Linked DNA regions of Homo sapiens: region 1 is linked to region 2. The links come from fine-mapping of genetic effects on gene expression. A gene starts in region 2. The other region holds a variant in brackets. All regions are shown on one strand. Distances are between the middles of the regions. Region 1 overlaps PRR16 (proline rich 16). Region 2 holds the start of PRR16 (proline rich 16).

The links.
Region 1: its variant is fine-mapped to the expression of PRR16 in testis (GTEx, PIP 0.94).

The regions. Positions count from the first base shown.
Region 1 is chr5:120,537,936-120,543,315 of GRCh38, forward strand. The region is part of intron 1 of PRR16 (proline rich 16); the gene reads left to right. Among named protein-coding and RNA genes, the nearest start is that of PRR16, 76 kb to the left of the region's middle. The variant C/CAT (reference allele first, on the strand shown) is at 2,926.
Region 2 is chr5:120,461,646-120,467,025 of GRCh38, forward strand. PRR16 (proline rich 16) reads left to right here and starts at 2,655. Exons shown (of 2, transcript NM_001300783.2): 1 at 2,655-3,000. The coding sequence starts at 2,842. RefSeq lists a silencer at 2,574-2,623 and an enhancer at 3,029-3,530.

The sequences.
Region 1 (5,380 bases), 76 kb after region 2:
CCGGCTAATTTTTTGTATTTTTAGTAGAGACGGGGTTTCACCGTTTTAGCCGGGATGGTCTCAATCTCCTGACCTCGTGATCCGCCCGCCTCGGCCTCCCAAAGTGCTGGGATTACAGGCGTGAGCCACCGCGCCCGGCCGTTGTTTATAATATAAGCATAATATTAGAAGATACTTTGAAACATACTTTCTGCTAAATAAAGAGATTAAGACTGAGTTGTCTATTCATTGATTTCATTTATGTTGAATACTTAATATTTAGAAAATACAAGCAAGTTATTATTGTTTCCATTTTAAATTTGAACAAGATATTTCTACCATCCTCTTTCAAGCTACTGGTTTAGTTTAATTGATAAGCATTCTGAGATTTTTAAGGGAAGCTCTTGAGAAAACATAGCATTTTCAGTTGTATTTCTATGAGTCAGGATTTGTCACTACTTTGCAACCAAAATGGAATCCACACGTAATTTGTCTGTAGGAACAACAGTCATCTATAAACCTCAACTGCAAAATTTTGTGTTGTTAAAATACATGTAATTCAATTTATTGGATACACATACTGCAATTTCGAACTTACAAACATTAATATATGCTATTAAAATGCCACTTTTAGTGGCGATATAGGGGACCAAATAAAGGTTTCTGCTGTTAAAACATTTTGATAACTGCTTGGTGGTTTGAATTTCTCAGAAATAAAAGAAGTACAGGTCTATAGGGTGCTTTTATAAACTGAAAGCATCTTCAGCATTTGCATTAATGTGTTGCAGTTGCAGAAAAAAAGAAGGTTGTCCTTGCTTCCCACACTCTCCTAAATGGTTCCAAATAATCTTGTTCTTTAAGGTATCAGTCATCTGAATTACCTCACTGCTCTCTTTCCCAGTAGTTATAGTTGGGCCTGGAGTAGGTTGAGCATGTGCAGCCTGCTTAGGGCTACTGCTGGGAGAAAGTGTTGGCTGCTGACTAGCAATTGCATCGTGAGTTTGTTCCCTGGAGGAAGACTGTGAAAAAATGAGTGAAGTAAAATACAGAGAAGGAAAATTGGTTTGAAGGAAAATGGCTAAATTAGGAGCAGACGAGACCACTCCAAGGACAGAGAAGGTACTTGGGCTCCTGAGAAAACAGAAAGGAGTGGCTCAGTATGGCTGTTAGCATTTTGTGAAATTTCTGACAGGCAACTTTGACGCCATTTCTACACCATAAAGAGAAAAACTGAAGGAGGTTCTCATGAATATTTTCTTTTGAAGAATGCTAGGTTTTTAAAATCATAGTATTGGCAAAACAAAGAAACAGTAAATATTATTTTCTAATAATATTAGAAAATAATATTTTTTCTAAATATTTTCTAAATATTATTTTCTAATAATATTTTCCCTGGAAGATTAAAAATATTTTAAATTAATATCAAATATTTAAAATAATAACAACAAAGAAACCAAAGCCAAGAAGTAATGCCCATAGATATTCCAAAGGATTTTAATATAGATTTTATTCTGAAATTTATTTAAATTACTACTAAATAATTATTGAATAGCCATCTAATACTTTAGTGGATTTATATGTTATCTTCAGGAAAAATTTTGCTATGGATGGGAAGAGGGTGAATAATGGAAAACAACCTATCGGGTATTATACTGATTACCAGGTGACAAAATTATCTGCATACCAAACCCCTGAGACATGCAATTTACCCATGTAACAAACCTGCACATGTGCCCCTTGAACCTGAAATAGAACTTGAAAAGAAAAAAAAACAATGCTATCTGTGTCAGTAAAAAAGGGTGTAGGAAGAGCATTTTGAGTCATGAGATTCTTGTATTATTCATTGGTTAATGAGTATTTAAATTATCAGTTGTGTATAATGTAATTGGATGTTGTGAAAAACACTGTATGAATATTAGGTTTTTTTTTCTTTTTTTTGGATGAGTAGTTAACATGTGTAATGGTAGAGATGACCGAGTCATTTTTAGAGTCTATTGTGTTTTATATTATAGGTTCTTGCTGTTTCAAAATCCCTTTTTGGTTGAAATTCATGCCTGGCACTTTTAAAGCCTGAGAGTACAGCTGCCTTTCCAGAGGCTCATACCTGGGTAGAGCTTGCCACGTTTTGAGTTTATTTTGAAACCAGTTTACTTTTGGTGAACCTAACAGGGCTTCTTATTTTGATGGTTCATTAGAAGAAAAGACAGCAGTAACAGTGTTTTGTTTTATTTTATTTATTTATTTTTTAAATTGAGCCAAGCACATTTACACATTCCATTTTTTTGTTCTTGGAGAGCCTCCCTTCAGGCCAGGACACAAATTCTCAGCAGGGCAATTGCAGAGGCCCCTGAGGAACCTCTTATCTGTTTGCACACAGCAGCTAGATTGTATGTTTTTGAATTCAAATCTAGAAATGTCTCTTTCCTCCTTAACATGATTTTCGGGCTTGGTCTTGCTTTAATCAGAAAATCTGAGGTTTTTAGGACACCATCCAGATTTCTTTCTCAAGTCCTTATAAGGCCCTATGTGCCCTGGCCGGGCCTCTCTTAACCAGGTTCATTTTGTACCATGTGCCCCTAGGCAGTTAGTATTTTGGTCACGTAGCCTTGTATACTGTCCCTTGAAAATATGATGTCCCTTCCTGTCCTGGACTTTAGATATGTGGTATTGCCCTCCACCTTCCTCTCTCCTTTGGTCTGTCCTGACCAACTCTTTCCCATCCTTCAAGACAATTTATTTATGCCTAGTGTTCCATTATTGGAACGCTAAGCATCTGGGAGTTATTTATATCCTACTGCTCAAGGTCATCACCAAGGTCTGATTGCAAAAATTCCAAAAATTGCAACCTCAGGAATAAATGGGTTATAAGAACTCAGCCTCCTAGTGACCACAGAATAGATCAACACTCTCTTTTTGCTCTTAATATTATATACTGCTACTTTCTAA[C/CAT]GTGTCATATCACAACTGTAATTAAATTATTAATTTTGTGATTGGAACTTCATTTTCAGCCCACCCTGACAGAATGTAAGCTCTGTTTAGGCACCTGGAACAGTGCCATGAGCATGGGGATATGCAACAAATGCATTTAGACGTACACATACACACATACATGTATTTTATAAAGAGATTCTTTAGAGGTCTTATAATTGATTGCTTTAGTATTTGAGGCAGGACAGAGGTAATACAGACTAGATATATAACAATAAATGACTGTTTCGTTGTTGTTGTTTATTTTTGTTTCTTGTTTTTTTTGGAGATGGAGTCTCAGTCTGTCATCCAGGTTGGAGAGCAGTAGCGCAATCTCGGCTCACTGCAACCTCTGCCTCCAGGTTCAAGTGATTCTCCTGCCTCAGCCTCCTGAGTAGCTGGGATTACAGGCACATGCCACCATGCCCAGCTAATTTTTGTATTTTTAGTTGAGATGTGGTTTCACTATGTTGGCCAGGCTGGTCTCAAACTCCTGACCTCAGCTGATCTGCCCACCTCAGCCTCTCAAAGTGCTAGGATTACAGGCGTGAGCCACTGTGCCCAGCCAATGACTGTTTTTTAAAAGCCTGAATGTTTTTGCTTCCCAACTCTGTGTCATTTCTCGTCACAAGGTGTGATTTTGTTACGTCTAGACCAGTATGGACATTAAACTGTGCATTCTACTTTCAAGAACTAATGACAAGCAATTAAATAATATATTCAGCTACAGCAGATTCGGGCTTTAAAATGATTGCTCAAGGGCATTTAAAAATATATCTGTTTCCTAATATTTAGAGTTTTATACTTTCATTTCTGCCTTCTTTTTTTATAATGAAAGTTAGTCTTTGGAAAGAATTGTGGCTCTAGATATGGGAGTGTTCCTGCCAGTATAACTGGGGTCATACAACTTTCAGGGCTTAAATAGGCTTTGTGGAATAGATATTTTCATCAACCAAAAAGACATTTCCTCCAGGATATCTTTGCCACTTCCTATTCTCTTGATCATTTTTGAGTTATCAGGCAGAATTTACCCCCTTCCTTTCCTCTTTTTTTTTTTAATTACAGTTTTGAGCACTCATTTTAGCCACAGATTAAAAATAAGCAATATAGCTTCTTGATACTCCCTTGTTGAAACCAAATGATTGACATTTCTTTTCCTCTAGGTGTTACAAAGAACCTCGGAAAGGGATACCACTTTATTAGCTGAAACTATTTTTGTGTGTGTGTTATATTTCTCAGGGGCACTGTAATTCAATTTTTGCAGCAACTTTTGGGCCTTGTTAGTGCCTCGAGTCAGCTTGTTGCAAGGTTTTGAGTGGTGATACTTATGCTGGAGTAGCTTTTTGAAAAAGTAAATAAATATTTTCTTCAAGATAAATATATAACTTCTGTTTTTACTTCTAACTCGTATGGCATTCTCATCTTTATTAATGGTTTCTCAGTATTTTTAAATATTCCTTCTATTTTGGAATGATTTTAGATTTATAAAAAAGTTGCAAAGATAGTACAGGGAGTACCTATATACTCTTCACCCTCTATCACTATTAACATTTTCGTTACATGATACACTTGTCAGAAATTAAGACATTAACATGGATAAATTAATATTAACAAAACTCCAAACTCTATTTGGAATTTACCAGTTTTTCCATTAATGTTCTTCTATTTCAGGACCCAAACCAAGATACCACCTCTCATTTAATCTCCATCTTTTCAACATAAAAACAAAAACAGACAAAAAATGAGATAGAGATTAACCAAAAGATTGATGGATCCAAGGTGTCATGGTCTATGTCAGTAATGAGAAGAACCAGGATGGTATATCTTATAATTACATAAGTATGTATTTTGAAGGCAGTGTCATCCCCTTGCAGTATTGTGTAGCTGGTACTGAAAATGTTCTTTGAAGGTGGATAAGTTTTTGCTTATTCACATTTATTTGTCTCTCTTGTGACGACACCTAAGATAGTGTTTATATTATTAGCAGTCATTCTTTAAAGAATCAAGAATAGAAATAATACAGTCATTAACGAGTGATTATTCAATGTGTGGTTTTATTGCTGTGTTTTTAACTATTAGGAAACTATTTGATGACTTTTGAAGATTCTAAGTTTTAGAATAGGTAAGAATAGAGCCTTTACTGAGGATTATTACATTTCTGTCCTTTTAAATAATTCATCTGATTGTAATATGTATGGCATGACTTGTTTTTATTATAAATCCATAGGCTGAAATATAGTCCCCTTACCTTTCAGATGCAGAGATTCAACTTGTAATTATCAAACTCTTAAGAAAACGGTTGAGCTTTTCCTATATTGTAAAATACTTGCTTGGGAAATTTTTGTAAAATACGTCAAAAACGGATGAAAACTTGCTTAAAACTACTTAATAGGTGTTTAAGAATTATATGTAGATGCAAGAGTGTGGCATTTGGTGA
Region 2 (5,380 bases):
TCTGAGAGAGTCTAGGATTACCCAAAGGAATGAAAGATTTTTCCATAGGGTAATACAAAAATAGGAAGTAAATACACTTGATTTATATTCATGGGCCCTTTTTATTCTGTCTTCTTCTCCTCAATATTTATAATTCCCTTTATAAAAGTTTCTTCTTTAGACATATTTTATGGAGATTTGCTTTAAGTGATCCTTAATGACTAGAAGATAGGGACAGACACCACTGCTGCAATCCTACCAGCTTTCTCAGTTTGGGCCTGGAAGCCAATTTTAACTTTTCCCTATTCAGTTAACTCTATATTGTATAAAGACATAGATAGATAGATGATAGTGATTATTTCAGAGTGAACTGTGATATGGGTGTGGGTGGTGTGTTTCTAAGCAATAATTATGATTTGATTTTAAGTCAGAATTATTTGTTTCAGTAGCAGCAGTGGATATCAGAGTATCAGAAGAGAACAGTTTTTTTTGTTTTGTTTTTGTGACGGAATCTCGCTCTGTCACCCAGACTGGAGTGCACTGGCACGATCTCAGCTCACTGCAAGCTCCACCTCCCGGGTTCAAGCAATTCTCTGCCTCAGCCTCCTGAGTAGCTGGGATTACAGGCTCCTGCCACCATGCCCAGCTAATTTTTGTATTTTTAATAGAGATGGGGTTTTGCCATCTTGGCCAGGGTGGTCTTGAACTCCTGACCTTGTGATCCACCCATCTCGGCCTCCCAGAGTGCTGGGATTACAGGCATGAGCCACTGTGCCTAGCCTGTTTTGTTTTTTTTTTTTTAATCTTTAGTGAATGAGATTCAGAGTAGCATGGACATCTTCTTATATTGTGGGAGGATTATTTTGTCACTGTGAGGGAAATCACAATTTCCTTTCCTCCTCTCCCATATCCTTGTCTAAAGTCACTTAACTTTGAGTTTGGCGGCTTTCTTACACACTTGCCTACTATTAAGAGTCAAAAATAATTCCAATCTAGAAGAATAGTACTTTCTCTTTTCCCCTACCATTAGCTTTTGCTAGTTTTGACAATTTTGGGGAGTCTGTAAACCTGATATAATTATTTTAATGTTATATTTTTTATAAAATAAAGAATTTGAGGAGAAAAAGGATGTTTTAAAAATCTAATTCTCCCTACCTCAGAGAACTCAAGCATATTACTTATTTCACACTTTTAATCATTTCTTCTCTTTTTCTTTTCTCCAGTTTGCATGCTGCAGACTTGTTCTTATAATCTCTTCTTAAGTCTTTCCAGCAGCATCTGCTTTTCACCTTTTCTCATTTCTTCCCCTGATTTTTCAATGCAGTTTTCAATGGTTTTCTTTTGACACCACTTTCAAATTTCAATTTTTTCTTCTGTTCTCTTTCTTCCTCTATATTCCACATATGACTTCCAAAGGTTTTGTAAAGATGAATTGTCCAGGATTAAGAGAGTGATTGATTAAGAGCCTACAGAACTGGGAAGAGGAGAGCTGCCAAGCTTTTCTTTATGTGTAGCACAGTGGAGCTACCCAGAGTGTGAGAAGCAAGAAACAGAGAGCCTTGCTAAGGCACGACGAAAAGGGGAAGCCTATTAAAAGAATGATCTGGAGGAGTGTGCAGTGAAGAAAATAAAGTAGAGCCAGCCTGCTGGGTCAGTAGCTAATAGCCCATGGGTTTACAACTAAGGAAGTTAAAATTCTAGCTAATGAGAATTGTAGACACCTACTGAGAGTGAACCGAAGGCTTCCTATTAACTTCCCTTCTTGGGTCTTTTTGACAGAACAGTCAGAAAGTTGTTTCCTATTTGTTTAGTAGCAAAAGAGTTGAAATGGAGGTTTAAAAAATGATGAAAGAGAAGTTGGAGGCAATCTCTTACTCAGCTCCTTCACGAGGTCCAAATACGATGTCTCCCCCACTCCACTCAAAATGTAAATCAGCATAGGTCACAAAAAGAGGAAGGACAGTTAAAAAAAAAAAAAAGAGTTGGGCCAAATAAGACATACAGCCAAGATGACTGAGACAATCAGAGAGGATTTGGGGTGTGGGGACTTCAAATTAATAAATCCGGTATTAGCTTTGTGGAATTAGCAGGATTAGGGTACCTCTTTCAAGAACACTGGTTGAATTTCATGGTTTCAATAGATGACCATTAGCTGTTATGTGCACCCCCCCCCCCCTTTTTTCTTGCAGAAGTTAAGAAGTCTGCTTAACTCGCAGGTCACCAAGAGATTGATTAAAGGCCTCTGGACATCATTTGGGTTTGGATAAATCTGTAGGGCCACTTTACAGACTGTCTCCAACTCCTGATCCCACTGTGGTTCTTTCTGAATTGATCCAGGTCCCTGCTAGCAAGTGAAGCAGAAAGAATCCAGGCTAGTTGTGAGATGACATACAGCAAGCAGGCTGAGATGATGGGGACATTTCAGAACCAAGAGGAGGGGGCGGGCAGGACACGGACTTGTCTCCCCCACCTTGATGCCAAGGTGGCATCTGGGAGATATCTCGAAGGGCAACGTCGAGGGGACTGCAAGCGTCAACCCTGGCGCGGCAGCACGGCGCCCCTCTCCGCGGGCGGGGAGCGAGCGCGTGTGCGCGAGAGCGCCGGGCGGCGGCGGGAGGAGGCGCAGGCGCGCTGCTCGCCCGTCTGCAGCCCCGAGCCGAGCGCCGCGTCTCGGGAGTTGATGGCAGCACCACTGTGCGGCCGCCCGGCCGAGCGCGGAGCGCAGCCACTCGCCGCTGCCCAGGGAGCGCCCAAGATGTGGGGGGACCGGGGCGGCAGCGGCCGTAGCAGCGCCAGGGACGGGGGCACGCAGCAGCCTCCGCTCGCCCGCCTGTCCTGACCTGCCTCGCTTGCCCCCAAAGAATGTCAGCCAAGTCCAAGGGGAACCCCTCCTCGTCCTGTCCAGCCGAGGGACCGCCGGCAGCCTCCAAAACCAAGGTGAAGGAACAGATCAAGATCATCGTGGAGGATTTGGAATTAGTCCTGGGCGACCTGAAGGACGTGGCCAAGGAACTTAAGGAGGTGAGAGGCGCAGGGGTGGGGAGGGAGTTCGGCACCCTTCGACCCCTCCGGGGTCCCCTTTCCGATTTTCAGCAGGGACAGCCAGATTTCCAAACTCCTGGGAAACTACAGAAAAGGCGCCTGCAGACGGACTTTCTTTGCTCCTGGAGTCCTGAGAGGAGTTGTTGTTGCACTTTTTAATTTTTTTTTTTAATCAGGAAGAAATCAACTAGTGTTTTAATCGATGGACCTGGGCTGGTGGGAGGGATGAACGCACGCGTGTCTCTGAATCTGTGTGTGTGACGACGGGGGAGAGGGTTAGCTGGGGGTGTGTCGGCAGAGGAAGTCGTGAGCAGCCCGGCTGGAGCGTGCAAGATGCTCCTCTCCTGCCCTATTGCTTCCCCAGAGTCCTTTGGCAAGTCCGCTGCCTATCTGTCAGCCTCCCCAAGTCAGGGCTGAAGAGGGGCCGGGTTCTGGGCCCTGGGCCAGATCAGGGAGGGCAGCCTGGAGGAAGCTTGGCTCAGACTACCCTCCCTGTCTCTCGAGCCTCGCTGTAGGGAAGGCGACCCGGGCTGCTGGCAGCCTTGGGGCTAAGGAGGGGGTCTGGGACTTTCTCACTTTCTCAGTTTCTGAAGCATCCCCTGCTCTCCTCCGAACGTCGTTACCAGTAACTCTGGGCCTTCCCGCCACCCTACCTCTGCTTCCTTCCTTCCACCCTGTCGCCACTTGGCATTGAACCCGAGAAGCAGGACGCGCAGGAGAGTGTATGTGTGGCCGGGGTCTTGCCATTGGCGTCCTGGCTCTCTGCAGCTGGGACTGCTTCGGTTCTTCCCCGCTTTTCCTATCCCACTTCGGTTCAGCCCTACTCCCGCCCGCCCCTAGCCCCAGGTGATCCAGATGGAAAGAAGCAGAGAAGGTGTCAGGGCTGAGGCTGCGTAACTCAGGCGGCGGCTCCGGGCGGGGGCGGGGGCCGGGCTGGGAGGGGTGGGGTCTCCCGAGCCAGGCTGGCTGCCGGCGGCGTCGCGGAGCTGGTAGCAGAGTCCCAGCGCGCCGCTCACTACTGAATGGGGTCCTGGTGCGGTTCTCGGTGAGGGAGTCCGCAGCTCCGCTGCGTGAGAGCTAAGACTAGAACTTCGAAGGTGGCGGTGGCTGCAGCGGGAAAAGGGGTGGGGCGTAGTCTAGGTCCAAAATTGTAATCCTGTTTCTGAAGCCAACGGGGAGGAGACTGAGGGTTGTTTGGATGACTGGCCTCTAGAGATTAACCTCCTGTATTCAATTTCCAAACCAAATTTCAAGAGCCCCCTCGTCTTCCTCCCCTTCCCCCGTTACCTCTATGAACTGAACTCTGCATTTGTTACCTAATGCAAGTCTGTTAAAATGGGCCATTCGTCACCAGGGTTAAGTTTGCCAGTGGTAAATGTCGTTCCTGTAGGTTACTCCACAGACAGAACATAATTAGTACTGAGGTCCTGAGAGTGGCTGTTAGTATACATAGATTCAGGGATAAAACTTGTTCGTGTTTTCAGGGTTTCTGTAGGATTATTGCTTCACAACTGGTTGACAGATGGTGGGGTTATGCATTGAAATTCAATTCTAAAAATGCTGTCCCTTTCTTTGTTATTCTTTTATATGACATCTTTGGTAGACTGTGTTTTCATCTGAAACATGGCGTTTTAAAAAATGAAATTGGGCATGTTCCTTTCGGCAGAATTGTGCTTAATAGTTGGTGAGGTTTCTATGGGCGATGTGGAAAACCTACAGCGGCACAGAAACGTATTTACTGTTTTCATGAGGCTGAGACTAAAAGAAAGGTAGTTAAACAGAATTCTGCATCTGTGAGCCATACTTCCTTATGTTTTAATGTCAGTCCACTCACTTTTTTTGCACAGAATAAATGACAAGAAACTGCACATGGTCCTGGTTTTGCTTTGCATCATTATTTATGGACATTTAGAGATTAAGTAGTGAAATCTTCAACCTCCCTGTGGTTATTGGTTAGAATCACAAAAATGTAAGTCAGGAAATCTGTTGATACCACTTTCTGTGTCTTCATTACTGAAGATTTTTTAAGGTTAAAAAAAAGGTTGTTTATAAGAGGAATAAAAAGCAGAGATAATGTACAACCCAGTAGATGAAACTATCTGACAGATCTAGAGATACAATTTTGACTCAACATTTTGGAAGATTTGTTTGTCTTAAGGATCTGTTTGAGTAAAAATCTCACCATGAAACTGAAATTTATGACATAAATAATGTGATGTGATTGTTAATTACTTTTGTGTGGGTATCATCATCCTAGATTTGCACAAGAAAATGTACCTACAATGGCCAAATCCCAAAACATCGGCTATTCATAGAATATGAATGAAAATATTTTGAGAACAAAGTATTTATAGGGTAT